Regions from separate parts of the Homo sapiens genome. Here region 2 is linked to region 1. Evidence: fine-mapped expression QTL. A gene starts in region 1. The other region holds a variant in brackets. All regions are shown on one strand. Distances are between the middles of the regions.

What was found. PIP is the estimated chance that this variant, and not a neighbour inherited with it, causes the effect.
Region 2: its variant is fine-mapped to the expression of F11 in prefrontal cortex (CommonMind, PIP 0.93).

Annotation. Positions count from the first base shown.
Region 1 is chr4:186,255,320-186,270,618 of GRCh38, forward strand. It overlaps F11 (coagulation factor XI), which reads left to right and starts at 10,870. Exons shown (of 15, transcript NM_000128.4): 1 at 10,870-10,976; 2 at 11,817-11,872. The coding sequence starts at 11,818. KLKB1 (kallikrein B1) reads left to right here. Exons shown (of 15, transcript NM_000892.5): 13 at 673-768; 14 at 1,907-2,046; 15 at 2,702-3,152. The coding sequence ends at 2,893. RefSeq lists an enhancer at 9,229-10,000.
Region 2 is chr4:186,234,576-186,250,815 of GRCh38, forward strand. It overlaps KLKB1 (kallikrein B1), which reads left to right. Exons shown (of 15, transcript NM_000892.5): 5 at 2,206-2,365; 6 at 3,681-3,790; 7 at 15,668-15,827. It overlaps LOC124900873 (a long non-coding RNA gene), which reads left to right and starts at 3,830. Exons shown (of 2, transcript XR_007058497.1): 1 at 3,830-4,470; 2 at 4,590-5,919. RefSeq lists enhancers at 6,530-7,135, 8,724-9,252, 9,253-9,780, 15,235-15,979. The variant T/A (reference allele first, on the strand shown) is at 7,685.

The DNA.
Region 1 (15,299 bases):
GGATGCCCAGGTGGGAGGATTGCTTGAGGCCAGGAGTTTGAGACCAGCCTGGGCAACACAGTGAGACCCCGTCTCTACATAAAATTAGAAAAAAACAATTAACTGGGTGTGGTGGTGTGCACCTGTAGTCCCAGCTAGTCAAGAGGCTGAGACAAGAGGATCTCTTGAGCCCAGGAGCTCAAGGCTGTAGTGAGCCAAGATCGTGCCACTGCACACAAACAATTATGTGACCTCGGGCAAGTTGCTTTACCTCTTTACACCTCTTAATTTCCTTATCTGTAAAATGAGGATGATAATTTCTTCCTGGGTCTGTTGTAATAATTAATACATCAAAGCACTTCATGTCTGGAACAGTGAAGATACCCTGCTATGACTATTAAGGATAGTATACATGGAATAAGACACAGGAACTTCTAAATGCTTTTGACCATAGATTTAGGTTCTGAGTTTTAAGAATTTAACTCAGGAAATTGTAACACCAAAAATGTCATGTGAAAAATGGTGGTGACAAATTTTCTTGAATCATTAGCCTTAGAGGTTGGGCAGAAAGCAAAAAATTATTCTTGATGCTACTCTATAGAAAGAGAAGACAGAAAAAGAGAAAGATGTATTTTTAAAGTCTATATCCATAACTTTATTTGACCAAACTCTAATTTAAAAATTATGTTTCAGAATTCCAAAAACCAATATGCCTACCTTCCAAAGGTGACACAAGCACAATTTATACCAACTGTTGGGTAACCGGATGGGGCTTCTCGAAGGAGAAAGGTAAGCATGACGCTTTAAATATTGCTTCTAGAGTAAGTCTCACATGTTGAAATACATGGAGTGGGTCGTTTTAATCGGTTTCTGTCTGAAATTATATCTAAACTCTTTATCTTTCCTATCTATTTATTCCCAAATATTTATTCAGTTATTCTTAAAAAATGTATTTTTGCTTTGGCTTGAAAAAAAATTTTAGGGAGACTTTTAAGCATCTTACTTCATTATAAAGATCAGTTGCTTGACTTTGCATGAAGCAGATTGGGCCCTTCTAGGGCTGACAAGCCCGTGCAAGACCACCCGCTCCTCAGTGTTAGTAGCGTTCCCGTCTCCCAAAACCATGTTCTCCCTTGATGCTAATGGCCGGGAGCACAGGCAGGTGTGTCGTCTCACTATGGAGAATAATATTTGTGTCATTCTTTACAGAAGAAGGTAGCTTGCCAAACTGTCTCCATCTTTCCCGATTCAGTCTTTTGTTCAAGTAATTCACATTTTTAGATTTTTTATTGGTAATCTGAGACAAGAAGAAATTTAAAGTAATCTTCACTAAGCCATGAAAGCTCCCAACATTGTTCTCCATGAGAGATGCTGGCCTGCATTTATTCAAAAACAAAAGACCCCTCTGTTGCCAAAGCTCGGAGGGCTTTTCAGAAACGATATAGTTGTAAATTATAATTTTGAATATATAAAGCAAAAAAATGAAAAGTGAGAACTTCCAGGCTTTGGATTGTTGTAGGTGATAAATATAAAATGGGATTTCTGGGGGGCTGCTACTGAGATGAGGGGATGGCAGAAAACATGGAAGCAAGGTCTCTGGTCAGCCCAGGGTGCTGGGCTTGTCCCAACACCACGTAGGCAATAAGAGGACAGTACAGGGTGCCGTCTCTCTCCCTCTTCCTCTCTCTGTCTCTCTCTCTCTGTGTGTGTGTGTGTGTGTGTGTGTAACACTACCTTCCCAATTTTTACTGTCTATTTGTATTCAAAGATAAGGTCCTTATGAAAAATACACTGCTCTGATTCACTTTAAAACTTATTTCCATATTTATTATTTATTGTGGGAATAATAATATTCCCAATATTATTATTTATTATTTAAGTTATTATTATTAACTTCCCTCTGAGGTTATATATTGGTTACTCACAGGTGAAATCCAAAATATTCTACAAAAGGTAAATATTCCTTTGGTAACAAATGAAGAATGCCAGAAAAGATATCAAGATTATAAAATAACCCAACGGATGGTCTGTGCTGGCTATAAAGAAGGGGGAAAAGATGCTTGTAAGGTAACTCATGAGATTATGAAAAACACAATAGGCTGCTTGAGAAAATTCATTTCAAAATATATTTTCCAATAGCATAATTCAATCATAGTTTTTAAAAAAATTCAGAGACAAATGATCTGATAAATTGATAAGCAACTTTTAACAAATTGAATATACATAATATATATTTATATTATTTATGATATATGTCACAATCTATGCATGTGCTATTTAAGAGGGGCAAATATACATGCAATAATTGTGCTAGAATATAAAAACATTAGACTTCATCATTGGGATGATGATATCAAGATTTCTTTGTTAGATTTATTTCAGATAGAAAAGGGGATACGAAAAATGCAGGCACATGAGATACTTGGAGAACTTTAAGAAAGAGTGAGTGTGTGTGTGTGTGTGTGTGTGTGTGTGTGTGTGTCTGGCAAGCAAGGTCTTGCACACACACAGCACTTTGGGAGGCCAATGCAGGTGGATCACTTGAGCCTAGGAATTTGAGACCAGTCTGGGCAATGTGATGAAACCCATCTCTACAAAAAAATATGAAAGTATCTGTGTGTGTGTGTTGCTGTGTAGTGGACTACAGAACTTTAGAGGCAGTCACTTATTTGAATCCCATTGTCGTAACTTTCTACTATTTTATTTTTCCACTGTGACTCAGGGAGATTCAGGTGGTCCCTTAGTTTGCAAACACAATGGAATGTGGCGTTTGGTGGGCATCACCAGCTGGGGTGAAGGCTGTGCCCGCAGGGAGCAACCTGGTGTCTACACCAAAGTCGCTGAGTACATGGACTGGATTTTAGAGAAAACACAGAGCAGTGATGGAAAAGCTCAGATGCAGTCACCAGCATGAGAAGCAGTCCAGAGTCTAGGCAATTTTTACAACCTGAGTTCAAGTCAAATTCTGAGCCTGGGGGGTCCTCATCTGCAAAGCATGGAGAGTGGCATCTTCTTTGCATCCTAAGGACGAAAAACACAGTGCACTCAGAGCTGCTGAGGACAATGTCTGGCTGAAGCCCGCTTTCAGCACGCCGTAACCAGGGGCTGACAATGCGAGGTCGCAACTGAGATCTCCATGACTGTGTGTTGTGAAATAAAATGGTGAAAGATCACGATTAGCAAGTGTTTTCTTCTGGTTGTGAAACAGAACTGAAAGTAAGTGGTTGAGGTTCCAGCACAGTTCCTGGGATCCCTCTAATTGCACTGCTTCCTCTGGAACTCAGTATATCTCAAAGATGTAATTTCCTCTCCGTGCTGCACCTGGTCGGCCACTGAAACCCACTATTGCCTGCTTCACGTGTGGCAAAGAGCTAGCGGGCTTGGGTTTTGTTCTGCCGAGAGGAAGGGAGAACACCCACTTTTATAAGAAAGAGATGGGTTACCTGAACCCATGGGCACCTTTGCCTCTTGGCCTCCTAACTTTGCTACCAGGGCATGGCTAGGAGGGTCCAGGCTGCGCGTGCTGAGGAGCTCGAGGGGCTGCAGCATTGCACAGCCTTCATGGCAGGCAAGGAATCTGCTTTGCAAGGGGCATTAGCCCTGGAGGCTCAGTGGATATGGGCTATTGCAATAGTAATTCAAGGAGCATTTTTAGGCCTGGCGTGGTGGCTCACGCCTGTAATTCCAACAGTTTAGGAGATCAAGGCAGGTGGATCACTTGAGCATAGGAGTTCGAGACTAGCCTGGCCAATGTGACGAAACCCCATCTCCACAAAAATTAGCTGGGCATGGTGGTGCGCACCTGTAATCCCAGCTCCCCCAGAAGCTGAGGCAGGAGGACCGCTTGAGCCCGGGGATGTCGTGGCTGCAGTGAGCTGAGATGGCACCACTGCATCACTGCATTCCAGCCTGGGCAACAGAGTGAGACTGTCTCAAAAAAAGGAAGCATTGTTAGGTATAAATTATTATTATTATTATTATTAGTAGTAGTAGTAGTAGTAGTAGTACTGAGACGGAGTCTTGCTCTGTTGCCCAGGCTGGAGTGCAGTGGTGCAATCTTGGCTCACTGCAATCTCTGCCTCCCGGGTTCACGCCATTCTCCTGCCTCAGCCTCCGGAGTAGCTGGGACTACAGGCACCCGCCACTGTGCTTGGCTAATTTTTTGTATTTTTAGTAGAGACGGGTTTCACCATGTTAGCCAGAATGGTCTCGATCTGCTGACCTTGTGATCCACCCGCCTCGGCCTCCCAAAGTGCTGGGATTACAGGCTTGAGCCACCACACCCAGCCCTGTTAGGTATAAATTATTTCATAAAATTCAGACTTGTAAATTTATGGTAGCCTTTGGAATGGGTGATAGATGTCCTATGCCACACAAATTCCTCACATGCCGAGGCTCACCGTAACTGATACCAGCTCGCTTGATTCAGTTCAGTTAAACTGAACAACATTTACACAGAATTGGCGATTTACAAAATCTTATGTAAGTTAAGTAGAAAAACAGAAAAAAGTTTTCTGAAAGAGTTTGGGTTTTTCCTTCAATGCTCAAGACAGAGGTCCCCAACCTTTTTGGCACCAGGGACCAGTTTTGTGGAAGACAGTTTTTCCATGGACCAGCATGGTGGTGGGGGATGATTCTGGAATGATTCAAGTGCATGACATTTATTATGCACTTTATTTCTATTATTACTACATTGTAATATATAATGAAATAATTATGCAACTCACCATAATGTAGAATCAGTGGGAGCTCTGAGCTTGTTTTCCTGCAACTAGACAGTCCCATCTGAGGGTGATGGGAGACAGTGACAGATCATCAGGCATTAGATTCTCATAAGGAGCCTAGATCCCTCACATGTGCAGTTCATAACAGGGTTTGAGCTCCTATGAGAGTCTCATGCTGCTGCGGATCTGGCAGGAGGCAGAGCTCAGGCGGTTATGCTTGCTGGCCTGCCACTCACCTCCTGCTGTGCGGCCTGGCTGCTAACAGGCCATGGACCAGGTACTGTTCTGGGCCCCGGGGGTTGGGAACCCCTGCTCAGAGACACACCGGGTGGTAGGAGGAGCTAAAGGTGGAGAGGGTGAAGGAAAATATGAGGTCTGGGCTATCCACAAACCAGATAGCAGGAAACTGAAGAGTTAAACATTTACTTCAGAATTGAATGGCTTTTGTAAAATCTGGCTAGATTCCATGAAACGATTTTAAAAATGCACTATTTAAATTTTGCCTTTGCATGCGATGAAGACATTAGTCTTTGTTCATGTGGATGTTTTTTTATGTTTAAAAGGGAAAAAATGGTTTGCAATGAAACTTTTATCTCAGTCTTTGAGTATTGATCATGGGGTGTTGGAACAGGACTTTGGAATGCTTGCAGGGTAAACCTTTGGCCTCTGTTAGTCAGGGAATGACCTAGTTTGGCAAAACAGAGGAGAGTTTTGAAATATGGAACTTTCCCGAGGCATACATTGTCATTTTAAAGTGGTCAATCAAAGCCCAGTAGGACTGGGCTGGTGTCTTGGTGACTCACTGTGTGCTCATATACAGGGGTAACTGAGGAGCCCTTCACACAGGTCTAGCCTCGTGGGACTAAAAAGTGTGACATGGGCTAGGAAAATGCGAGGCTGGGATGCCTTCACTCCCATGAGGAAGCGTGACGGGAGGAGGCGTGGGCCACTGGCAGTTCTACTTCACAAAGGCTGCTGGCAGTGTCAATCCTGCAAGCTGGCCTTGCCCTCCTGTGGCGGCAGTGTACACGTGGCATGCAAGCACATGCACAAGCCACCTGGCTCCAAGGTCAGCCAAGGGCTCCAACATCTGTCTCAGTCCCTGCCAAGGCATGGGAACCCCCCACGTAAACTTGGAACTTTTCCTTTCAATTGTTGCTTATGTCTGTCACTTTACTTGACTGTGAGCAGCTTCTAGGGAGGCTCTCTCATTCATAGTGCATATCATGGGCATCCAGTAAACGGCTAATGATGATGATACACCTTTATTACAAAAATAAAGGCAATGGAGACTGAAGAGGTGAAATGATTAGCTCAAGGTCACTGGCAAGGACAGAGCTGGAACAAAGCTCAGCATTCCTATGCCAGGCAATGTCCTCTCACTGATATCCGGTTGCTTCTCACTAGGAGAAGGATGAAAGATGACAGAGCATTTATAACCACCATTTGTTATTTTCATTATCAACTGACACTGGTGTTTCTCTGCCCGGAGCGATTTTGTCCTCCCTTCACCTCAGGAAACATTCGGCAACGTCTAGAGACACTTTTGGTTGTCCTAATGGGAGAGGGTATGCAACTGGCTGTAGTGGGTAGAGGCCAGGGATGCAGCTAAACATCCTGCAGTGTGTGGGACAGCCCCTCGCAAGAGAGAGTTATCCTGCCCCAATATCAATAATGCCAGGGTTGGGAAAGCCTGATCTCATGTCAGCATTAAAACCTTGTAATGAAAAGAGGACATTTCGGCCGGGCGCGGTGGCTCACGCCTGGAATCCCAGCACTTTGGGAGGCTGAGGTGGGCGGATCGCGAGATCAGGAGATCGAGACTATCCTGGCTAACACGGTGAAACCCCGTCTCTACTTAAAATACAAAAAAAAAAAATTAGCCGGGCGTGGTGGCAGGCACCTGCAGTCCCAGCTACTCGGGAGGTTGAGGCAGGAGAATGGCGTGAACCCGGGAGGTGGAGCTTGCAGTGAGCCGAGATCACACCACTGCACTCCAGCCTGGGCGACAGAGCGAGACTCCGTCTCAAAAAAAAAAAAAAAAAAAAAGAAAAAGAAAAACAAAAGAGGACATTTCAGGAACAGCAAGAAAGGGGTTGTAGGACATGGCGGGCTGTGCCCTTTCTCTTCCTTTATTTTTTACTTTTTGATACATTCTATTTGTACATATTTGTGGGGCACATGTGAAATTGTGTTATGTGCATAGAATGTGTAATGATCAAGTCAGGATGTTGGCATACCCATCACCCAACCATTTCTATGTGTTGAGTACATTTCAAGTCCTTTTCTAGCTATTTAGAAAACTATAATACCTTGTTGTTGACTGCAGTCACCCTACTCTTCTGTCAAACATTAGAAAGCATTCCTTCTATCTAACTCTGTGGTTGTACCCCTTCACCAACCTCTCTTCGTCCTCACCACCACCCCCCCACACACACCCTTCCCAGCCTCTCGTAACCACCATATACTCTCTACGGCCATGAAATCATCTTTCGTGGGATCATGCAATGTTTGTCTTTCTGTGCTTGGCTTACTTTACTTAACATAATGACCTCCAGTTCCATCCACATTGCTGCAAATGGAATGATTTCCTTCTTTTTTATTGTGTCCATTTTCAAAGCAAGTTCTGAAAGACAAGAGAAGGAGCTCTGAGAGTTGATTATGGCCATGCCTGAGAAGGGGTCTCAGTCAACTAATGCCGTTGTGGACATTCCTGTCCCAAGCAGAAGGCTTTAGGTCACAATATGTCCAAATGTCCAATACATCTCCCACCTATGATCCATTGGAAAGAAAACAAACCTCGGGACCCCCAAAATCACTAAGCCACATGGAAAAGTAAAGCTGGGAACTGCATTGGGCAAACCTTCCTCCCATTCTATTCCTAAATAAAATAGCTTTCTTAAGCTATAAAAAACCTTTTTTAAGCTTTAAAAAGGTTTTAAAAAGCTACATTCCTCACAATTTGCCCATGAGGAAATTCCTTGTGGAAAAAGGACAGGCAGAAGTCAGAGTCACCCCTCTGCTGACATGAGACAGGTGCGTATCTGATTGCCTCGTTTGCCATATTGTTTCACTGGGCCACACTAAGGCATGAGTGACTATTCTTGTAAATTGCGTATTTGGTGAAAGGCTAATTGGAAACTCGAAAAAATGCTTCTGTTTGTCTCTTATCTACCTATGACCTGGAAGCCCCCTTCCCTTCTTCGAGTTGTCCCACCTTTTAGGACCAAACCAATGTACATCTTGCATAGATTGATTGATGTCTTATATCTCCCTAAAATGTACAAAATCAGCTTGGGCCCTGACCACCTTGGACACATGTCATCAGGACCTCATGAGGCTGTGTCATAGGTACATCCTTATCCTTGGCAAAATAAACTTTCTAAATTGATTGGGACCTGTCTCAGATACTTTTTGATTTAGAATCCTAACTTCTGACTTGTACTTGGGTCTCTGCAGACTAACTTCTATATTCTTCCTAAGACTTTGTCTAGTTATTCCTCATTTTCATCAGTCTTCGAATATTCAAAAACATTTCATTTCATTGAAAAAAAATTGAAAAAAGTAGTTGATATCAGAATTTTAAACTGCAATGCATTAGTTGAAAATAATTTTTTAAGGATATCTATGGTCAGTTTAAAAGAAAGGTCTATTTAATCTCAAAGAGTTTCTATGTAGTCAAGACTTTTATTCTAGGCTGGGCACGGTGGCTCATGCCTGTAATTCCAGCACTTGGGAGGCCAAGGCAGGTGGATCGCTTGTGCCCAGGCATTCCAGACCAGCTTGGGGAACACAGCAAAACCCTGTCTCTACAAAAAATACAACAATTAGCCATGCGGAGTGACATGCGGCTGTATTCCTAGCTATTCAGGAGGCTGAGGTGGGAGGATCACCTGGTGGCTGCGTTGAGTGGAGATCACACCACTGTACTCTCGTCTGGGCGACAGGAGTGAGACCTTGTCTGAAAAAAAATTATTCTACTTTTATTTGAATAGACAAAATTTTTTTGAATCCTGATACTATTTCAAAGACCTTAAAGATTTCACTAACTAGCTAAATCAAACTTAGGAAAATATTATTTGGTTTTCCAGTGAAGCATTTCTCTTATTTAGAGCCTTTCTGTTTCTCTCAATAGGGTTGGAGAGTTATCCTTATCTTCTTTTTATTGGGGCTTAAGAAGAGAGATGAGGTTCCATGGAGTAAACAATACAAGGATATAAGGACCTCATATAATCTCACGTATCCATTTTCCATGAAAGCCATTCTTGGCACGAATTTGCCATTCTATGTTTGAGCCTCATAAAAGGCAATGCATCATAAATATGCACTTTTTGGGTAGCTGGAATGTACTTTAAACGGGAAACTCAAGAAAACAGCTAGGAACTCTTTATGCCAGGATAAGTCAAATGCACTGGCAATAGATCAAATAAAAATATCTGAGTAAATGCCTTCCAGATAGAACATCACCCTAGTTCTTCAGCACTTTACAAAAAGATCTGTTCTCAGTTCACATTCTCTTAATTCCCTGTCATTTCTCCCCGGTCTTCCAAATATGTTTTTTAAATTATGATTCCATGTATAAACACAAGATCGTATTTTGCTTTTCTATGAAAAATTGAGAGCCTTCTCTGAACCATAAACGTATCTTTCTCCAAAATGTATTCAAATCAGGCATATTGAAAACTGTTTTGTGTTCGTGTTGTGAGGTTTTTTAGGGGACCGCACAGAAACCCTCAGCACTAGTTAGTGCCTTGTGTTCTAAATGAGGAAACGGAAGCCAAGGACCTGCAGGTGGCTGGGGACTGTGCACAGGCTGGTTCCGCTCAAGTCACATGACTCGTCAGCCAGTGAGTAGGTCTGGGTAGCAGTTGGCATGGATGAACATGCCCTCCATAGGCTTTCAGACCTTCTTCAAGGCCAAAGGGAAGGCCTTCATGGAAATATAATTATGTGAAACACCCCAGAATTTTTTCACAAACTTTCCTGCCTATAAACGCCAGGTCCTACCACTGTCCAGTGTCCCACTTCCCACTGTCCAGTGGGAAGACTCCCTCCAGGACAAAACCACCCTTTCCTTCAGGGATGTGACGTGCTGTGCTTTCGTTGACAGTCATGCAGCTGCTAGACATGTCACTTCCTAGCTCTCCATTCGGGTCTGTGTCCCAGGACCTAAAGAAAGCTAAAAGAAGCCGGGCGTGGTGGCTCATGCCTGTCATCCCAGCATTTTGGGAGGCTGAGGCTGGCGGATCACTGGAGATCAGGAGTTTGAGACCAGTCTGACCAGCATGGTGAAACCCTGTCTCTACTAAAAATACAAAAAAAGAAAAGAAAAAAGAAAAAAAAATAAGCTGGGCGTGGTGGCGCGGGCCTGTAGTCCCAGCTACTCCGGAGGCGGAGGCAGGACAATCACTTGAACCTGGAAGGCGGAGGTTGCAGTGAGCTGAGATCGCGTCATTGCACTCCAGCCTGTGCGACGAGAGACTCTGTCTCAAAAGAAAGAAAGAAAGAGAGAAAGAAAGAAAGAAAGAAAAGAAAGAAAGAAAGAAGAAAGAAAGAAAAGAAAGAAAGTAAGAAGCAAGCAAGCTGAAATAGCTTATTTTTCTGTTTTAAAAAATAGACTTTTAGTGTTCACAAGTAAGAATAAAAAAAAAAAAAGCTTGGCCTTAGGAGGAATCCTATCTGCTTAGGCCTCTGAGAGGCAGCGTCACCTGAAGGGAAACTGACTGGGCAAGAGCCAGGCTCTTAGGAGCTGTCTGTACTTTGCTTCCCATCCGTCCGCTCTCCCCCAGCAGCCAAAGTCTCCTCCCTCCATTATATTGCAAATCAATGAATCCATTAGACTTTCCATGTTTTCTTTTTAGACTTTGAGATTCAAGGTCAGCTAGAATTAATGGTTAACAGCTGACAGGTGAAAGTGTGGTTAAATGCAGCTTTGGCTAGCAGGCACACAGGCAAAATCAAGTTCTACATCTGTCCCTGTGTATGTCACTTGTTTGAATACGAAATAAAATTAAAAAAATAAATTCAGTGTATTGAGAAAGCAAGCAATTCTCTCAAGGTATATTTCTGACATACTAAGATTTTAACGACTTTCACAAATATGCTGTACTGAGAGAGAATGTTACATAACATTGAGAACTAGTACAAGTAAATATTAAAGTGAAGTGACCATTTCCTACACAAGCTCATTCAGAGGAGGATGAAGACCATTTTGGAGGAAGAAAAGCACCCTTATTAAGAATTGCAGCAAGTAAGCCAACAAGGTCTTTTCAGGTACAGTTTCAGAACTTACTATTTAACATTCCTCTCAAGCAAATACGCCTTGAAATGCTTTTTTTAAATCATAGGAATTTAAAAACACTTTACAATAGAGAATGATTGATTTTTAAAATGTGTCTGATTTAGCTTTGTAGAGATGTTCCGCTAATATCCATAACTAATCTGAGAGGAAATGTGGAACAACAGAAGAGTAACAGTGTCTACTCAGTAACAAGCGTTTTACGAGTTAAAAAGACATCCAAATGCAGTACTGAAAAATCAGAAGTCTTGATTTGTCTCACTGATGACTCCGTTTTTCCTAGAGCAGTCTGTTTAATGCTTACTGGAGATAAATAGATTTATAGGTGACCAAGACAATCGATTAATGTATCAGCCACAGACTTTTTTAAATAGAAAATTTTCTAAGTAGGAAATCATTCATAGCTCTTTGAAAGATATAGGGAGAGGCCTCAAGGAAAGAAAGAAAGGAAAAAAATTGGGAAAGGAAACAAAGATGAAAAATTGGGGTGGGGAGAGCGGTCAGATGGTGGCCATGAGAAGGATCTGAACACAGAGAGCGGCGGGGCCGGCGGGGAAGGAGGGAGGAGGGGAGAGCGCTGCTTCCCTGTGGGTTCCGGCTTCTGCAGAGCTGTAAGAGTTGAATGCCACACACAGTCACACTAAGGAATGCTCCAGGATTGGGAAAGAAAATTCAACATTATAATGAGAACACTGTGAATGCTATTGAATTAACTACTCCCCTCTCTCCCTATTTCTTGTAAGTCTTAGTGTCAGTAAACTAATTATAAATTTACATTTTATGTTCTAAAAGCATGCACCTTTTTCTCATTGTAGGATGATTTTCTTATATCAAGTGGTACATTTCATTTTATTTACTTCAGTTTCTGGTGGTAAGTAGAGTGTTATCTTAACTATGGGCTGGGAGAGGGAAATCACACTGCAATCTCCACACATGTGGGAGAATCCCACACCATTTATGCCGGGAAGGAAATAAAATGTTTTTATTAACTTCCTGCCTGAGGCTCCAGAGGTTTTCAAAGCAGGGTAGGAATTGAGGTGAAAAAATTGTTTGTACTGGTAGGAATCTGTGTCTATATGTGTACCATATCTACATCCATGCCTACATACATCATTCATTTAAATGATATTTAAAAGCAATATTAAAAAGAAGAAATCTTGATTTGCCTCACTAATTAGTTGGTTTTTCATAAAGCAGTCAGTTCAATGGAACATACACACACACATAAAATAGGAATTTTGTACTGAAAAATGTTATGTAACTATTCATACACAGTTTATGCATTTCAATAATTTAACTACCCTGTTAATTCTCCACCCTATGTCACATCTGCTAAATTTGTTTATAAATTACTTAGCCAATATTAAGTAGGATATATCAGTACAGGTATTGTTTAGTTCCATGACCATTCTTTATTTAAAATGAAAGCTGAAGCATTCCTTTAGAAAAATAGCTTATGTCTACATGTTATATTTAATTTCTGATACTATTGCTAGCATTTTAAGCATAGTAAATTCTTTTTGCTGGCCTATGTGAAAAAAGGCAAACCTAGGTGAAGATATTAAAAGTAAATTCCACTTAATATATTAAATTACACAGCTCATAATTTCAATTTTCTCTGTGACAAGACTACTGCTCAGGTTATAATATTCCTTTGTTATAATTATCTGGAAATTGTATTGTTATTTCATTGATAAATATGTCAGCGCTAAATAATTTGATATATTTTGAACACTGGACCCAATAACTACATAAACAATTGACCCTGAATCAGGGGTTCCACATCCATGGATTTAAACAACATTGAAGTGAAATTTTTTAAAAAAAATTATATCTGCACTCAACATGTGCAGAGTTTTTTCTTGTCATTATTCCCGAAACAACACAGTATAACAACAATTTGCATAGTATTTACATTGTACTAGGTATTATAAGTAATCTAGAGATGATTTAAAGTACACAGGAGGCTGTGAGTAGGTTATATGTAAATACTATGCCATTTTCTATCAGGGACTTGAGCGTTCATGGATTTTGGTATCTGCAGGAGGTCTGGCAGCCAATCCCTCATAGATATCAAGGAATGATAGTGTACATATTTAGGTCCTTTATACATGCACATGGAACATTTACAAATATTGACCACACACAAGCCTCTGAAACAAGGCTCAACAAATTTTAAGGGGTTAAAATTATACTGATCATGTTATTCAATCACCGTGAATGGGAGCTAGAATAATAATAAAAAGGGAATTGAAAATCTGCAAACGTTTGAAAATTGAGTATTTATAATCACCGTGAATGGGAGCTAGAATAATAATAAAAAGGGAATTGAAAATCTGCAAATGTTTGAAAATTGAGTATTTATACCTTTTTAGATTAAGATGAATCAGAGATGAAATCACAATGGTAATTAGAAAAGGAATTGTACAATAATGAAAGTACAGTATATCAAAACTTTGAGATGTAACCGAATCAGTGTTGAGATCAAATGTATAGATTTACATGTATACATTAGAATACAGAAAAGGGAAAAATTAATGATATAAGATGACAAGAAGATAGAGAATAGCAACTTAAGTGCTAAGAAATTAGAAGGCAGAAAGAAGAAATCGCAGAAATTAATTAAATGGAAGACACACATATTTGAGAGGTCAACATAACCCCTTTCTAGCCCATTTTATAAGGTCAGGGTAATCTTGACACCAAAATCTGATAGGAAAATTCTGAGGAAAAAAAGTCACAGGTCTTTTATCTTATGAACATATGTACAAATGTCCTAAACAAAATATTATCCAACTTAACCCAGTAGATTGTTAAAAAAATTAAAGGATGATTACATTGTGATATTGTGACAAAGTTGGGTTTATTCCAGGAATGAAAAGTTGATTTAACATTCAAAAATCAATAGATGTGTGACTTCGGGGTACATACCGAAAAAAAAGAAGGGAAAGCAGGAACTCACACAGATATACTTGTACACCCATCTCATAGCAGCATTATTCACACTAACCCAAAGGTGGAAGCAGCCCATGTGTTTATCAACAGGTGACTGGATAAAGTGTGGTACATACATACAAAGGAATATTACTCAACCCTAAAAAGAAAGGAAATTCTGACACATGCTATGACATGGATGAACCTTGAGGACATTACGCTAAGTGAAATAAGCCAGTCACAAAAGAACAAATACTGTGGGATCTCACTGATAGGAGGTACTTAGGGTAGTCAATTTCATCAAGACGGAAATTAGAACAGAGGTTGCCAGGGGCCGAGGGGCCAGGGGAAGGGCTGAGGGTTGGTGTTTAATGGGCACAGAGCATCAGCTGGCGAAGTTGAAAAGTTCTGGAGGTGGATGGTGCTGATGGTTGCACAGCAATGTAAATACCCTTAGTGCCACAGAACTGTACACTCAAGATGGCTACATGGCACATGGTATGCTATCTGTCATAATAAAAAATAAAAATAATTTTAAATGTTAATATGTGCCGAAAAATGCTTGCTAAAATTCTATTAATGATCAAAACTTTAAATAAACTGGAAATGGAAGAGAACTTTCATCAGCTATTAAACGATATTTTAAACAAAAGCAAACAAAAATCCAAACCAAAAATCTTCAAGAAACATAATACGTAATAGCGGAATATTGAAAGCTTTCCCAAGGGATTGAGAATAGGACAAGAATACTTCCCATTATTTCCATTTACTCTTGACTGGAGGTACTCGTTGGTGCGGTAAGGAAGGGAAATAAAAGGAAAACGATTAGGAGGAACATAAGCTCTCGTTTTTCACAGATGATGTGATTGAGTACCTAGAAAAATCCAAAATTAACCATCACATAAATTATTTGAGCCAATTAATTAAATGAGTAAGAAGTCTCGATACAACGTCAATATACAACAGCAAGCACTTGCTCGTTCGCAAAAGCAGATGAACTAGTTTTTACTGACACTAGAAGCAGCATGTGTTCCATGTGTTCCACATCCATGCACTCAAACAACCTTGACGTGAAATATTTTTTAAAAAATTGTATCTGTACTCAACGTGTGCAGAGTTTTTTTCCAAAATTGTTTTCCAAAAATTTTTAAATGTTTATATGTTTAGGGGGTGTAAGTGCAGATTTCTTACATACATATATTATGCGGCGGTGAAGTGCCGGCTTTTGGTGTACCCATCACCCAAGTAGTGAACACAGCCTCCAACAGGTAATTTTTCAACGCTCACCCCACTCCCATCCTCCCATCTAGTGGCATATTGAAAATCAATTTGTCTTGTAAAATTAAATAATCCAATTAGGAGGG
Region 2 (16,240 bases), 20 kb before region 1:
CCACAGCAAATAATTTTCTGGCCCAAAACGTCAACAGTGCTGACATCAAGAAACTCTGTGATATACCACTAGGCCCAAATTGAAGAACTGAGTTCTGCAAATCTTGCTAAGAATAATACTTCCTAAAGGAAACTTGAGGACTAGGATGCTAGAGAACTTTGATTCTGACATCTGAAGCTACTGATGTCTTGGGAAACAGTTTCCAATGCTATCCTAATAAATTTAAGACAAATGAACTATTTCTCAAACATGACTGGGACTGATAAGAAAGTGAAAAGTGCTGAAAAGATTCAACTGATGGGTTGTCAGAATCTTAAAATAACTGCTGTTATTCTATGTATGACTATATATCATTACTATTTTATTTTCATTATGCACAATTAATTTTGTAGGTTCAAATTTCAGATGTTTTTAAATTTGTCATCCTTTCCTCCCTCATTGATATCACCTCTTCAATACGTACACACTTTGAGCCTGCTGTTTGCATTTTAACCAGTTATCAAAGGATGGCAATGCCTTCATTATAAATGTGGGCCTGACTTAGCCAGTATAATAGGTGTAGTCTACGTGAGGTGGAGTACATTTCCTATTTTAAAAGATCAATTTTTATGTTAATCCAATTTGGTATAAATTATTCGAGTAAGTGCTATTTCTGATTGTTGTATCTTGTAGCAAAATTTAAAGAAAAAGTAATTTGTGCCTTTCTCAATATTCCTGTTATTGTTCATGTATTCTAAAACTCACTGTTACTCACTTAGCTTGCTTTTAATGTTTTTTAAAGTGAAAAATTGTTCCCAAGTACATAAAATCTCTACACTCAAGAACAATTCTAGTCAAAAGCATTTAGAGCTTCCGTATGAACACTTAAAGAGTTTTTATTTGTAAGAGTCGCATCCCAACTCTTAGCCTGTTCTTTTCTCACATGCAGAAAAATAGGAAAGAGACTTCGTTTCCACAGTCTGCAAATTCCTGTGTTTAAGAACCACAGTGAATAATCCACCTCCCTGCCCAACTCATCGTACTGTCATATAGTTTTCCTGACAGTTTGTGTATTTTCTGTCTTTCCCACCCTTAAATTTAGTTTTATGACTTCAACCATACTTCTTAGGAGTGGAAAGGTATCTGTAGTAGATTATGGTTTATTCCACATAATCTTGGGGAATAAAACTTTAAAAAAGTATACAGTTTATACTTCTGGTTACATTACTTCCTTAACCAAAAGTCTAACCAAGAAATTTGAATCTTTAAAAAAAAAAGAGGCCGGGCGCGGTGGCTCACGCCTGTAATCCCAGCACTTTGGGAGGCCGAGACGGGCGGATCACGAGGTCAGGAGATCGAGACCATCCTGGCTGACACGGTGAAACCCCGTCTCTACTAAAAATACAAAAATTAGCCGGGCGTGGTGGCGCGCGCCTGTAGTCCCAGCTACTCGGGAGGCTGAGGCAGGAGAATGGCGTGAACCCGGGAGGCGGAGCTTGCAGTGAGTCGAGATCGCGCCACTGCGCTCCAGCCTGGGCGACAGAGCGAGACTCCGTCTCAAAAAAAAAAAAAAAAAAAAGAGCCTAATTTTGCTTCACTGTCTGTGAAAAGAATTATCTGTATCTTTTGCATGTAAGACAAATCTCAATGAAAAGGGTGCTTAAATAGAAGTTAACACTATTTTAAAGCAAGAATGGAAGTGGTTTCATCATGCGTAAACAACAACTCTCCACATTTTGTAATGATTGATCTGGATGCAATTTGTCATCAGACAGGAGAAGTCGAAAGCAAAGAAATAACACTGGGAGATAGAGAAGCTCTTTCATTCAATGCGAAAGGTCAAAGGCACATCAGTTTCTTTAATAATGCAAACCTCAGCACACATTATCAGTGTCCTCATTATTATTGCCTTGTTTATTTCCCACTGCTCATTGATAATTTCAACGTGAAATTTACCTGTATTGCTGCATGCATCTTGCAGTTTAAGAAGTGAAGTAACCCAATTTCAAAGCTAGTGCTTTAGGGAAAATATTGGATTGTATTTACTTCAAGCAGAGTTCGATAATTTATGTACATAATAAAAATTTTAAATCCCTTAGTTAATATAGCAGTTGCCAAAACTGGGCTATTATCATTCTAAACTACCAACCCAAATGGTAGTGGGTATCTAATCTACCTCTAGAAAGAAAATGGACTGTATTTGCTCTATGTATTTTTCTTGTACAGCTTGCCATCGAGACATTTATAAAGGAGTTGATATGAGAGGAGTCAATTTTAATGTGTCTAAGGTTAGCAGTGTTGAAGAATGCCAAAAAAGGTGCACCAGTAACATTCGCTGCCAGTTTTTTTCATATGCCACGCAAACATTTCACAAGGCAGAGTACCGGTGAGTACAATTCAAGGTGTGTGTTCTTTGTATTGGTGCCTCCAGGATTTCACTGTATTCTTCTTAACCTCTTTTGTTCCCAAACTAAAAACCAAACAGGGCTTTTATTCTAACCACTTTCCTCATTTACTTACTCTATTTTATTTTTTTATCTTTTATTTATTTATTTATTTATTGAGATGGAGTCGCGCTCTGTCGCCCAGGCTAGAGTGCAGTGGCGTAATCTCGACTCACTACAACCTCCGCTTCCCGGGTTCAAGCGATTCTCCTGCCTCAGCCTCCCGAGTAGCTGGGATTACAGGCGTCCGCCACCATGCCTGGCTAATTTTTGTATTTTTAGTAGAGTCGGGGTTTTACTATGTTGGTCAGGCTGGTCTCGAACTCCTGATCTTGTGATCCACCCACCTCAGCCTCCCAAAGCGCTGGGATTACAGGCATGAGCCACTGCGCCTCGCCCTTCATTTTTTAATTAAATAATTCATTTAATTTCATTTGTTTCTCTACTCTTTTCCCCTGGCATGTAATTGTACCGCATCTTCAAAGCCTGACATCCTCTTCCCCTACTTCTCCAAAGCTGATTCTTGCAGGTCTTTCCTCAAATACCGTCCCCTCCAAAAGCCCATTTCTGAGCATTCTCTTTTAAGTCACACTCAGCTCTGTTTATTTCATTCATAGAGCTAATCACAATTTGATATTAACTTGTGATTTTTTTCCTTATTTTTAAATCTTATTTTTATTTGCATAGATGTATGGGGTACAAGTGTAATTTTGTTACTTTGATGTATTTTACAGTGGTAAAGTCTGGGCTTTTGGTATATCCATCACTGGAGTCATGTACATTGTACCCACTAAGCTATTTTTCAACGCCCGCCCCCTTCCCACCTCTCTGTCACCTTCCCAGTCTCTACTGTCTATCGCTCCATGCTCTACTCAATTTTGGTGTCATTTTTTCCTGAAGCAAAATTTTGGTGTCATTTTTTCTGAAGTCATTTTCTGAAGTCTGTGTCATTTTTCGCTTTCCTGAAGCGAATTTTGGTGTCATTTTTCCTGAAGTTCCGTTTGCCCCACACATAGGCCTTGCTTATAGAATGAGGGTTTAGTGTCACGGAGTCTCCTGCCTCATTCTCACCCTAACTTTTCCTTTACCCCTTTGCGAGGGGAAGGATGTCCATTAGGTTAATAATGCAGACCCCTAACCCACTCATTATCAGGGTCATTGTTTTTCCACTGTGCATTTTAATACTAACTGTTACCTGCACTGCTCCCTGCCCCTCAAAGTGCAGAAAGCAAAGTAACCTCTTTTCTTCCCATTCAGGAACAATTGCCTATTAAAGTACAGTCCCGGAGGAACACCTACCGCTATAAAGGTGCTGAGTAACGTGGAATCTGGATTCTCACTGAAGCCCTGTGCCCTTTCAGAAATTGGTAATTGTAGGACTACTTCACTTTGTGATTGTGGTAGGTGGAATAGGAGCCCCCAGAGACGTCCCTGTGCTGAGCCCTGGGACCTGTGCGTGTGTTCCCATAGCTGGCAAAAGCGTTTCTGTCAATGGCATGCAGTTACGGGCTTCGAGATGGGGAGTTTACTCTGGATTTTCTGAATGGGCCCAATGTACTCACAGGGTTGAGTGCTCACAAGGCTCATAAGAAAAAGAGAGAGGCGGAAGGCTCAGAGCCAGAGAGAGAGGTTTGAAGGTATTACACTGCTGGCTTTGAAGATGAAGGTCCGTGAGCCAAGGAATGCAGGCGGCCTCTAGAAGTTGAAAAGGGCGAGGAAAGAGTTTCCCTGTGGAGCGTCCTGGAGGAAGAAGCCCTGCTGATGTCTTGATTTTAGCCCAGTAAGACCCAATCTCTAGAACAGTAAGATAATTAATTTGTGTTGTTTTTAACCACTAAGTTTGTGGTTATGCCCCTAGAGCAGCAGTTATAGGAAACTAGTACAGTGATACTGTTAGAGTTATAGGACAGTGATATAGGACAGTGATACTGTTATAGTTATAGGAAACTAGTACAGTGATACTGTTAGAGTTATAGGACAGTGATATAGGACAGTGATATTGTTATAGTTATAGGAAACTAGTACAGTGATACTGTTAGAGTTATAGGTACAGTGATATTGTTATAGTTATAGGAAACTAGTACAGTGATACTGTTACAGGTACAGTGATATAGGACAGTGATACTGTTATAGGAAACTAGTACAGTGATACTGTTAGAGTTATAGGTACAGTGACATAGGACAGTGATACTGTTATAGTTATAGGAAACTAGTACAGTGATACTGTTAGAGTTATAGGTAGAGTGATATAGGACAGTGATACTGTTATAGTTATAGAAAACTAGTACAGTGATACTGTTATAGTTATAGGACAGTGATATAGGACAGTGATATTGTTATAGTTATAGGAAACTAGTACAGTGATACTGTTAGAGTTATAGGTACAGTGATATAGGACAGTGATATTGTTATAGTTATAGGAAACTAGTACAGTGATACTGTTAGAGTTATAGGTACAGTGATATTGTTATAGTTATAGGAAACTAGTACAGTGATACTGTTATAGGTACAGTGATATAGGACAGTGATACTGTTATAGGAAACTAGTACAGTGATACTGTTAGAGTTATAGGTACAGTGACATAGGACAGTGATACTGTTATAGTTATAGGAAACTAGTACAGTGATACTGTTAGAGTTATAGGTACAGTGATATAGGACAGTGATACTGTTATAGTTATAGGAAACTAGTACAGTGATACTGTTATAGTTATAGGACAGTGATATTGTTATAGTTATAGGAAACTAGTACAGTGATACTGTTAGAGTTATAGGTACAGTGATATAGGACAGTGATATTGTTATAGTTATAGGAAACTAGTACAGTGATACTGTTATAGTTATAGGACAGTGATATAGGACAGTGATATTGTTATAGTTATAGGAAACTAGTACGGTGATACTGTTATAGTTATAGGTACAGTGATATTGTTATAGTTATAGGAAACTAGTACAGTGATACTGTTAGAGTTATAGGTACAGTGATATAGGACAGTGATATTGTTATAGTTATAGGAAACTAGTACAGTGATACTGTTATAGTTGTAGGACAGTGATATTGTTATAGTTATAGGAAACTAGTACAGTGATACTGTTAGAGTTATAGGTACAGTGATATAGGACAGTGATACTGTTATAGTTATAGGACAGTGATATTCTTATAGTTACCGTGGTATAGTTATAGTTAAAGGTACAGTGATATTGTTATAGTTATAGGACAGTGATATTGTTATAGTTATAGGACAGTGATGTAGTTACAGTGATATAGGTACAGTGATATTGTTATAGTTATAGGACAGTGATATAGTTATAGGACAGTGATATTGTTACAGTTATAGGTACAGTGACGTTGTAATAGTTATAGGACAGTGATATTGTTATAGTTATAGGTACAGTGATGTTGTAGCAAAACTGTAAGGTCATTCCTTGGTTGTGTCCCTATCTAGTGAAATGACTCTACCAGGGGTAGGGAAATAAAACTCTGTCGTTTCACACATAAAGGTAATTTCAATGGAATTATCCAGAAAATTGCCATGACATTCCACCTCATTTAGCATGTCAGGATGTTAATGACAAGATGTTACTAAAAGCAAATCCCTTACGGCCAGTTTTCCGCAGTACTGGGTGCTGGCTCTGTGCCTGGCCCTGTATTGGGTGCTGGGCTAGGATTTCCCTGTGGAAGATTGGGAAGGTTGGTTACAAGGTGGCTATTTTCCTGTCTCCTCTTTGCGACAGCACACCTTCTCCATGGTGTGTGCCAGGTTCACGTGTACTGGTGATTTAATTTTAACGTTCATATTATTTTTTTCTGGGAGAGTTTTTGAAGGCTGCCAGGAGGCAGGACTCGATGCAAACATGCTCCATTCTGTACCCAGCCCTGTTGCTGGAAGGATTTGCTGCACTTACCCAGGGAACAGGCAAGCTCGTGCTGTGGCTCTGGGCTGTCACAGCTGCTGTCCACACCTGGGAGAGCACCCTGGATGGCTCATCTGTGTACTTGCTTTCTTGTTAAATTGCAGTGAGTTCACATGTGATTTAATCGGATCAAATGGCCTTTACAGACTGATAAAAATATGGCTGTTTCAGGTGGTGTTTTGAGCTGCTAAGGGCGTGGCTTTTCACTGAGTACGTGGTCCCCGTTCCTCAGGGAACACCCAGTAGCCACATGCCTCCTAAACCTAGAGTAGGGCTGTCTCCTGGCCTAACTGCCCAAATGAGATTCATAAGTTAGGGATGATCTGTAGTTATCACTACAGATTTGTCCTTGGTTTCACCAAGGATTTTCCTAATTTTACAAACAAAACCCCTAAGGCTCCTGGAAGGAGGGTAGAAGTGAAGGTGCTCCGGGGGCAACACAGCTGATGAGCTGAACCAGAACTCGACCCTTGGGTCACACACATTTCACAGTGCTCACTCCACCTTTTGTTTTTTTAATGGATTTAATGGTGTTTTAAAGCCTCCTGCCTCTCAACACATATGAATTCATTATATTTACAGATTTCCTTCTCTTGTGGTCCATCTTCCTGCATAGATCTTGAGAGATGTCAGGCTAACCACGTTTCCTCAGTTAATTTAACAAAACCATTTGCAACTCTGACATGGAAAATTCCTACCATGTGACTTATTAATTTATCAATTGAGATGGTACACATATTTTCAAGCCAAAAGGAGGAAAACATAAATTGGAAAAAAAAGGTTTTTTTATTTTTATCACCTCTGGGGAAGAAAGTCTGATAAACGAAGCTGGTTGATAAAATTGCAATTAGGGGAAGCAACATCATGGTTTCTGTTCGGAGGCTAACCAGATGGCATACTTGAAATAGAGAATGTCCTAGAAATCAACTGGTTGCTTGGCCAAAATATCTATAAATAGTGCCCAACATATTAGATAGGAAAAGCAAAGTAAAAACAATTTTAACAGGTTAGGACATTGGGCTGAAGTATTGCATATATTTAATGTCATGTGCGTCCGTGTGAAGAGACCACTAAACAGGCTTTGTGTGAGCAAGAAAGCTTTTTAATCACCTGGGTGCAGGCAGGCTGAGTCCGAAAAGAGAGTCAGTGAAGGGAGATGGGGTGGGGACGTTTTATAGGATTTGGGTAGGTAGTGGAAAATTACAGTCAAAGGGGGTTGTTCTCTGGCGGGCAGCGGTGGGGGGTCACAAGGTGCTCAGTGGGGGAGCTTCTGAGCCAGGAGAAGGAATTTCACAAGGTAACGTCATCAGTTAAGGCAGGAACCGGCCATTTTCACTTCTTTTGTC[T/A]TTCTTCAGTTACTTCAGGTCATCTAGATGTATACGTGCAGGCCTGGGCCCAGAGGCCTGACATTCCTGTCTTCTTATATTAATAAGAAAAAGAAAACGAAATAGTGGTAAAGTGTTGGGGTGGCGAAAGTTTTTGGGGGTGGTATGGAGAGATAATGGGCGATGTTTCTCAGGGCTGCTTCGAGCGGGATTAGGGGCGGCGTGGGAACCTACAGTGGGAGAGATGAAGCTGAAGGAATATTTTATGGTAAGGGGTGATATTGTGGGGTTGTTAGAAGCAGCATTTGTCATATAGAATGATTGGTGATGGCCTGGATATGGTTTTGTGTGAAATGAGAAACTAAATGGAAGACACAAGGTCTGAATAAGAGAAGGAGAAAAACAGGTGTTAAAGGACTAAGAATTGGGAGGACCCAGGACATCTAATTAGAGAGTGCCTAAGGGGGTTCAGTGTAATTACTTGCTTGGTTGGTGAGTTTTTGGGCTCTATCCTTGACAGAGTCCTCCTTTTTAAGTTGGAGGCTGAGCTTGGTGAGGTGTGTTTTTAAAAGACCATTAGTCTGTTCTACCTTTCCTGAAGATTGAGGATGGTGAGGGGTATGAAGGTTTTACTGAATACCAAGAGCCTGAGAAACTGCTTGGGTGATTTGACTAATAAAGGCCGGTCTGTTATCGGATTGTATAGAGATGGAAAGGCCAAACTGAGGAATTATGTCTGACAGAAGGGAAGAAATGACCACGGTGGCCTTCTCAGACCCTGTGGGAAAGGCCTCTACCCATCCAGTGAAAGTGTCTACCCAGACCAAGAGGTATTTTAGTTTCCTGACTCCGGGTATGTGAGTAAAGTCAATCTGCCAGTCCTGGGCGGGGGCAAATCCCCGAGCTTGATGTGTAGGGAAGGGAGGGGGCCTGAGCAATCCCTGAGGAGGAGTGGAGTAGCAGATGGAACACTGAGCAGTTATTTTTTGAGGATAGATTTTTACGACGGAAAGGAAAAGTGAGGTTTTAAGAGGTGGGTTAGTGGCTTGTAACTTACATGGAAGAGTTTATGAAATGATGACAGAATAGAATGGGCCTGTGAGGCTGGAGGAGATATTTTCCTTGGTCCAAGAATTATTTGCCTTGTGTGGGAAGAGATTGATAGGTGGAAGTTTCAATGGGGGAGTAGATGGGAGTGACAGATGAGGAAGAAAAAAACTGGCTGTGAGGGATAGAAGTTGGAATGCTCGCTGCTTTTTTAGCTACCTTATCAGCATAGGCATTGTCCTGAGCAGTGGGATCTGATGCCTTTTGGTGGCCCTTGCAGTGAATGGCTTCAGCTTCCTTTGGAAGTAAAGTGGCCTTGAGAGGAGTTTTTATTAAAGAGGCATTAAGATGGAGAACCCTTGTGTAGTGAGGAAACCTCCTTCAGCCCATATAACCGCATGGTGGTGCAGAATATGGAAGGCATATTTAGAGTCAGTATAAATATTGACACGTAGTCCCTTTGCAAGAGTGAGGGCCTGAGTTAAGGCAATGAGTTCAGCTTGCTGAGAGGTAGTGGAGCGGGGCAGAGCAGTAGCCTCAGTGATAGATGTGGAAGATACTACAGCATAGCCTGCCTTTGCTGGTGAGTGGTGATTAGGCCTGGTGGAACTGCCATCAATAAACCAAGTGTGATCAGGGTAAGGAACAGGAAAGAAGGAAATATGGGGAAATGGAGTGGATGTCAGGTGGATCAGAGAGATACAGTCATGGGGGTGGGGGCCAGCCTAAAACAGTAAGGTCAAGTTGTTTGAACAGAAAGGCTACAGGGCGTGGTCCTGGCTCTTGTGTAAGAATTTTGACTGCGCAGCCCTGCACTTCGGCTGTGTGTAATGAAAAGGGTTGGGATGAGTTAGGGAGAGCTAGTGTGGGAGCAGTTTCTAGGGCTGTTTTTAAGGAATGGCAAGAGGAGTGGCTAAAGGATTTAGGATCTTTGGGGTCAGCTAGCTTTGCTTTTGTGAGTTTATATAATGGTTTAGTCAGGATGGTAAAACTTAGTATCCAAAGGCGGAAGTACTTAACCATACCTAGGAAGAAAAGGAGTTGTTTTGTAGAAGGGGTTGGGGTTTGGGAGATGAGCCAGACACAATCAGCAGGGAGAGCACATGTGTTTTCATGAAGAATTATGCCGAGATAGGTAATGGATGAGGAAGAAATTTGGGCTTGACTGAAGTAATGGGGGCTGTCCTCGAAGCCTTGTGGCAGTACAGCCCAAGTAAGTTGCTGAGGCTGACGGGTGTCAGGGTCAGTCCAAGTGAAAGCGAAGAGAGGCTGGGATGAAGGGTGCAAAGGAATAGTAAAGAAAGCATGTTTGAGATCCAGAACAGAATAATGGGTTGTGGAGGGAGGTATTGAGGATAGGAGAGTATATGGCTTTGGTACCATGGGGTGAATAGGCAAGACAATTTGGTTAATGAGGCACAGATCCTGAACTAACCTGTAAGGCTTGTCCGGTTTTTGGACAGGTAAAATGGGGGAATTGTAAGGAGAGTTTATAGGCTTCAAAAGGCCACGCTGTAACAGGTGAGTGATAACAGGCTTTAATCCTTTTAAAGCATGCTGTGGGATGGGATATTGGCATTGAGCGGGGTAAGTGTGATTAGGTTTTAATGGGATGGTAAGGGGTGCACGATAGGTTGCCAAGGAGGGAGCAGAGGTGTCCTATACTTGTGGATTAAGGTGGGGACACACAAGGGGAGGATGTGAAGGAGGCTTTGAACTGGGGAAAGGGTGGCATTGAGGTGTGGCTGTGGCCTAAGAACAGTCAGGGAAGCGGATAATTGAGTTAAAATGCCTCGACCTAGTAAGGGAGCTGGGCAGGTGGTGATAACTAAAAAGGAGTGCATAAAAGAATGTTGTCCAAGTTGGCACCAGAGTTGGGGAGTTTTAAGAGGTTTAGAAGCCTGGCGGTCAATACCTACAACAGTTATGGAGGCAAGGGAAACAGGCCCTTGAAAAGAACGTAATGTGGAGTGGGTAGCCTCTGTATTAATTAAGAAGGGGATGGATTTACCCTCCACTGTAAGAGTTACCTAAAGCATCTGTGATGGTCCAGGAGGCTTCTAAGGTGATCGGGCAGCGTCAGTCTTCAGCCGCTAAGCCAAGAAGATCTGGGAAGCAGTCAGTCAGAGAGCCTTGGGCCAGAGTTCCAGGGGCTCTGGGAGTGGCAGCCAGGCCAGTTAGACAGTCCGATTTCTAGTGGGGTCCCACACAGATGAGACACAGCTTAGGAGGAATCCCAGGCTGCGGGCATTCCTTGGCCCATTGGCCAGATTTCTGGCACTTGAAACAAGATCCTGATGGAGGAGGTCCTGTAGGAATGCTTGACCACTGCAGTTTAGGCATTTTGAAGTTTTTGTGTGTGCTGGAGATGTGGCTGGGTTTTGTCTCACAGCAGAGGCAAGGAATCGCAACTCAGAAATACATTGCTACTTGGCTGCCTCTATTATTGTACATCTTGAAGGCGAGGTTAATTAAGTCCTCTTGTGGGGTTTGAGGGCTGGAATCTAATTTTTGGAGTTTTTTTTTGTTTGTTTTTTGGTTTTTTTTTTTTAATGTCAGGAGCTGACTGGGTGATAAAATGCATATTGAGAATAAGAGGCCTTCTGACCCTTCTGGGTCTAGGGCTGTAAAGCGTCTCAGGGTTGCTGCCAAACGGGCCATGAACTGGGCTGGGTTTTTCATATTTGATGAAAAAGAGCCTAAACGCTAACTGATTTGGGAGAGGTCGGATAAATAAAAAGGAACATTAATCTTGACTATGCCTTTAGCTCCAACCACCTCTTTAAGAGGAAATTGTTGGGCAGGTGGGGGAGGGCTAGTCGTGGAATGAAACTGTAAGCTGGACCGGGTGTGAGGAGGGGAGGTGATAGAAGGATTATAGGGTGGAGGAGCAGAGGCTGAGGAAGAATTGGGATCTGGCTTGGCCTGGCAAGGAGCAGCCTGGGGAGGAGGGGAGAGGTCAGATGGGTCCATAGAAAAGGAGGATTGGAAAGACTCAGCAACACTTGGGGTTGGGATTGAGAGGACAGATGGGTTGGGATTGAGGGGACAGATGGGAGGGAAAGAAGGAAGATTTGGGACAAGTTGCATTGGGAACAGAGACTAGGGAGGGACCAATGTGTAAAAGAATGCCTGGACGTCAGGCACCTCAGACCGTTTGCCCATTTTATGACAAGAATTATCTAGATCTTGTAGGATGGAAAAATCGAAAGTGCCGTTTTCTGGCTATTTGGAACCATTGTCGAGTTTGTATTGGGGTTAAGCAGCATTGCAGAAGAAAATAAGGCATTTAGGTTTTAGGTCAGGTGTGAGTTGAAGAGGTTTTAAGTTCTTGAGAACATAGGCTAAGGGAGAAGAAGGAGGAATGGAGGGTGGAAAGTTGCCTATAGTGAAGGAGGCAAGCCCAGAGAAAAGAGAGGGTAGAGACATGGAGAGAAGGGGTGGGGGGGTGCTTGCCCCCAGGAAAGTGGTTCTTGCCACTAAGGGTGAAGGATCAAGGCAGGCATTCGCGCGGTGATCAGATACCTCTGAAACGTGGGTGAATAATCAAGCAGGTGTCCCTGCAGTGATTAAACAGCAAGGAAAGACTATCTTCCCAAGTCCATGACCAGTGCCAGAGTTTTGGGTTCATGGATAAAACGCGTCTCCTCTGTCTCTACCAGAAAATGAAAGGAATTGAAATTAAGAGAAGGGAGAGATTGAAGGATGGCGCCAAGATTGAAAGGAAAAAGAGGTTGAGGGATAGGGAGAGAGGTTGGATAAGAGAGTAAAAAGAGGCTGCTTACCCAATTTAAAATCGGTGAGATGTTCCTTGGGCTTGTTGGTCTGAGGACCAGAGGTCATGGGTGGATCTTTCTCATGGAGCAAAGAGCAGGGGGACAGGGGATTGATTTCCCAAGGGAGGTCCCCTGATCTGAGTCACAGCACCAAATATCACGTGTGTCCATGCGAAGAGACCACCAAACAGGCTTTGTGTGAGCAAGAAAGCTTTTTAATCACCTGGGTGCAGGCGGGCTGAGTCCAAAAAGAGAGTCAGTGAAGGGAGATAGGGGTGGGGACGTTTTATAGGATTTGGGTAGGTAGTGGAAAATTACAGTCAAAGGGGGTTGTTCTCTGGCGGGCAGGGGTGGGGGGTCACAAGGTGCTCAGTGGGGGAGCTTCTGAGCCAGGAGAAGGAATTTCACAAGGTAACGTCATCAGTTAAGGCAGGAACCGGCCATTTTCACTTCTTTTGTCATTCTTCAGTTACTTCAGGCCATCTGGATGTATGCATGTAGGCTTGGGCCCAGAGGCCTGACATTTAACATGGATAAATGTAAAGTTCTTAGAATCATACATACACTTTGGAAAAGATGGGGCTTAATCGCACTTTATAAGACTTGAAGGATGTTTGAGAATCACTATGAAACTGCTGAAAATACCAAGAAAATTTAATTCTTATGTATATAAATAATGTGTCTGTTTTACATGAATCCCTTCTACAAGCTTGGTATTTAATATGGCATATATTGTTTTTTCATAGTAGATTTAAAATTTTTGATATCTAATTTAGATAACATAAAATTAACCCTTTGAAAGTGTACAACTCCGTGGTTTTTAGTATATCCACCTGATTGCACAACGATCACCACTGTCTAGTTCCAGAACATTTTTATCACCACAAAAGAAAGGCTGTATCCAGGCCGGGCACGGTGGCTCACGCCTGTAATCCCAGCACTTTGGGAGGCCGAGGCGGGCGGATCACGGGGTCAGGAGATTGAAACCATCCTGGGTAACACGGTGAAGCCCTATCTGTACTAAAGATACAAAAAAATTAGCTGGGCATGATGGCAGATGCCTGTAGTCCCAGCTACTCAGGAGGCTGAGGCAGGAGAATGGCCTGAACCCAGGAAGCGGAGCTTGCAGTGAGCCAAGATTGCGCCACTGCACTCCAGCCTGGGCGACAGAGCAAGACTCCATCTCACAAAAAAATAATAAAAATAAAATAAAAAAAAAAAAGAAAGGCTGTCTTTCTCCTTTCCCATTGGCCGTCTTTCTCCATTCCCTACTCCTCCAATCCCCTGGCAACCACTAAATCTACTTTCCATGTCTGTGGACTTGACTCTTCGGGACATTTTACATAAATGGAATCATGCAATGCAGCACATTTTGCATCTGGCTTTTTTCACCTGGCGTGTTTTCAAGGCTCATTCGTATTCTAGCATATATCAATACTTTGTTCCTATTTAGGACTAAATAAGATTCTATTGTATGAATAAAACATATTTTGTTTATATACTTAGTTTGATGAACATTTGAGTTGTTTCTGGATTTTTTTTTTTTTTTTTTTGCCTCTTATGAATAATGCTGCTATGGACAACAGTTTTTGGGTAGGCATGCATTTTAAATTCTCTTATGTATATACTTAGGATTAAAATTGCTGGATCACAGAGTAACTCCATGTTTAACTTTTTGATGAATTGCCAAACTGTTTTTGAGAGCAGCTACACAATGTTACATTCTTACCAGCAACAATTGAGGGCTTCAGTCTCTCTACAACCTTAACAACACTTGTTATTGTCTTTGTAATTATTGCCTTTCTAGGCAGTGTGAAGTGGTGTCTCACTGTGGTTTTGATATGCATTTCCCTAATGACTAACAATGTTGTGTATCTTTTCGTGTGCTCATTTTCAATTTGAATACATTCTTTGGGAAAATCTCTGTTTAAATCTTTTGGCCATTAAAAATAATTGGGTTATTTTCATTGTTGAGTTGTATGAACTCTTTATATACTCTGGATACTACACTCTTATGACATATATTATTTTCAAAAATTTTCTGTGCATCTGCAGGTCATCTTTTCACTTTACTGATGGTGTTCTTTGAAGCACCAAAGTTTTTAAACTTGATGAAATCCAGTCTGGCTTTATTCTTGCACGTGCTTTACCTAAAACGCCAAAACCTAATTCATGGTTTTGAAGATTTTTGCTTATGATTTGTTCTTAGAGGTTTATAGTTTTAGCTCTTACATTTAGGCATTTGATGCATTTTAAATTAAATTTTGTATATGGTGTAAAGTAGCAATCCAACTTAATTCTTGCATGTGGGTATTCAGTTATTCCATTGTCTTGAAACCCTTTTCAAAATCAATTGTCTATAAATGTAAGAGTTTATTTTTGGACCATCAGTTCTATCCTGTTGACCTATATATGCCTATCCTAATGCCAGTTACACACAGTCTTGATTACCATAACTTTGCAGTAAGTTTTGAACTCAGACAGTCTGAGTGCTTTTATTTTGTCCTTTTTCAAGATTAATTTGGTTATTCCGGATCTTTTGCATTTCCATATGAATTTTAGGATGGTTGTCAATTTCTGCAATAGAAAAGCAGCAGGATTTTGATAGAGAGTGCATTGAATCTGTAGACCAATGAGTATCAATGGAATTATGTGTTATCAAATTTAGTAAACTACATAAACGATATGTACACAACTAAAACAAAACTAAGATATAAGATCATATTAATGTAATGATAATAAAAGTGGATTGTCTCCTGTTCTAATTTTAATAGGCACAAGGCATTTTTGTTAATCACTTCTTATTAAAGAATTTTTTATAATATTCAGGAAAATACAACAAAAAAACCCTTACATTCCTAAGGCCTCAGAGTCAGAGTAATATAAAGGAAATGTAAACACATGCTGAGTAATGCAAGCATTTGGCAATGGTGGTGACTGGAGCTGGGAGCACAGCTTTTATTTCTCTGAAATAGGAATTTGCCCCTTAGAGTTAGACCAATTTTGCCTTCCTCTAAATGGCAAACAGTTTGGAGATACTTTAAAGGACATTTTTTCACTTAGGATGTTTAGTACTATGAATAATAAATAGTCACAATTTCCTTAACTATGGTGACAAAATACAAGCAAATTTAGCCTCATGTCATTTCCTAAGGAACATCTTCTCTCTGTGAGTTCACAGGTTGCCACATGAACATCTTCCAGCATCTTGCGTTCTCAGATGTGGATGTTGCCAGGGTTCTCACTCCAGATGCTTTTGTGTGTCGGACCATCTGCACCTATCACCCCAACTGCCTCTTCTTTACATTCTATACAAATGTATGGAAAATCGAGTCACAAAGGCGAGTATGCATGGAAAATCGCATCACAAAGGCGAGTATGCATGGGGAGCACTTGCTGCTGTACTTTCATCACTTTTATAGTCTGAGTTCTTAAAAGTTTCGTTCATTTCCCTCAAAACACTTGAACCTGCAGTTTCAGTAGGTACTGTTCTGCCAGGTGCAGATTAGTTAAGAGATTAGCAGACTTCTCTGCCTATCTTCTCTTACTTTAAAACAAATGTTACCATTGAATCAAGGAAGCAATAGCCATGAGAAAAAAGAAGGATCTGACGCCTTTGAATGAAGATTCAAAACATGATCTTCATGTTTTGTATTAGCTTGGAGTAAAATCCACTTGCTGGCAATATAGCCCTTAAGCTTGTTGCCTCTTCTCTTTGTTTCAGAAACTAGAGCCCTGTTTATTCTGATCAAGG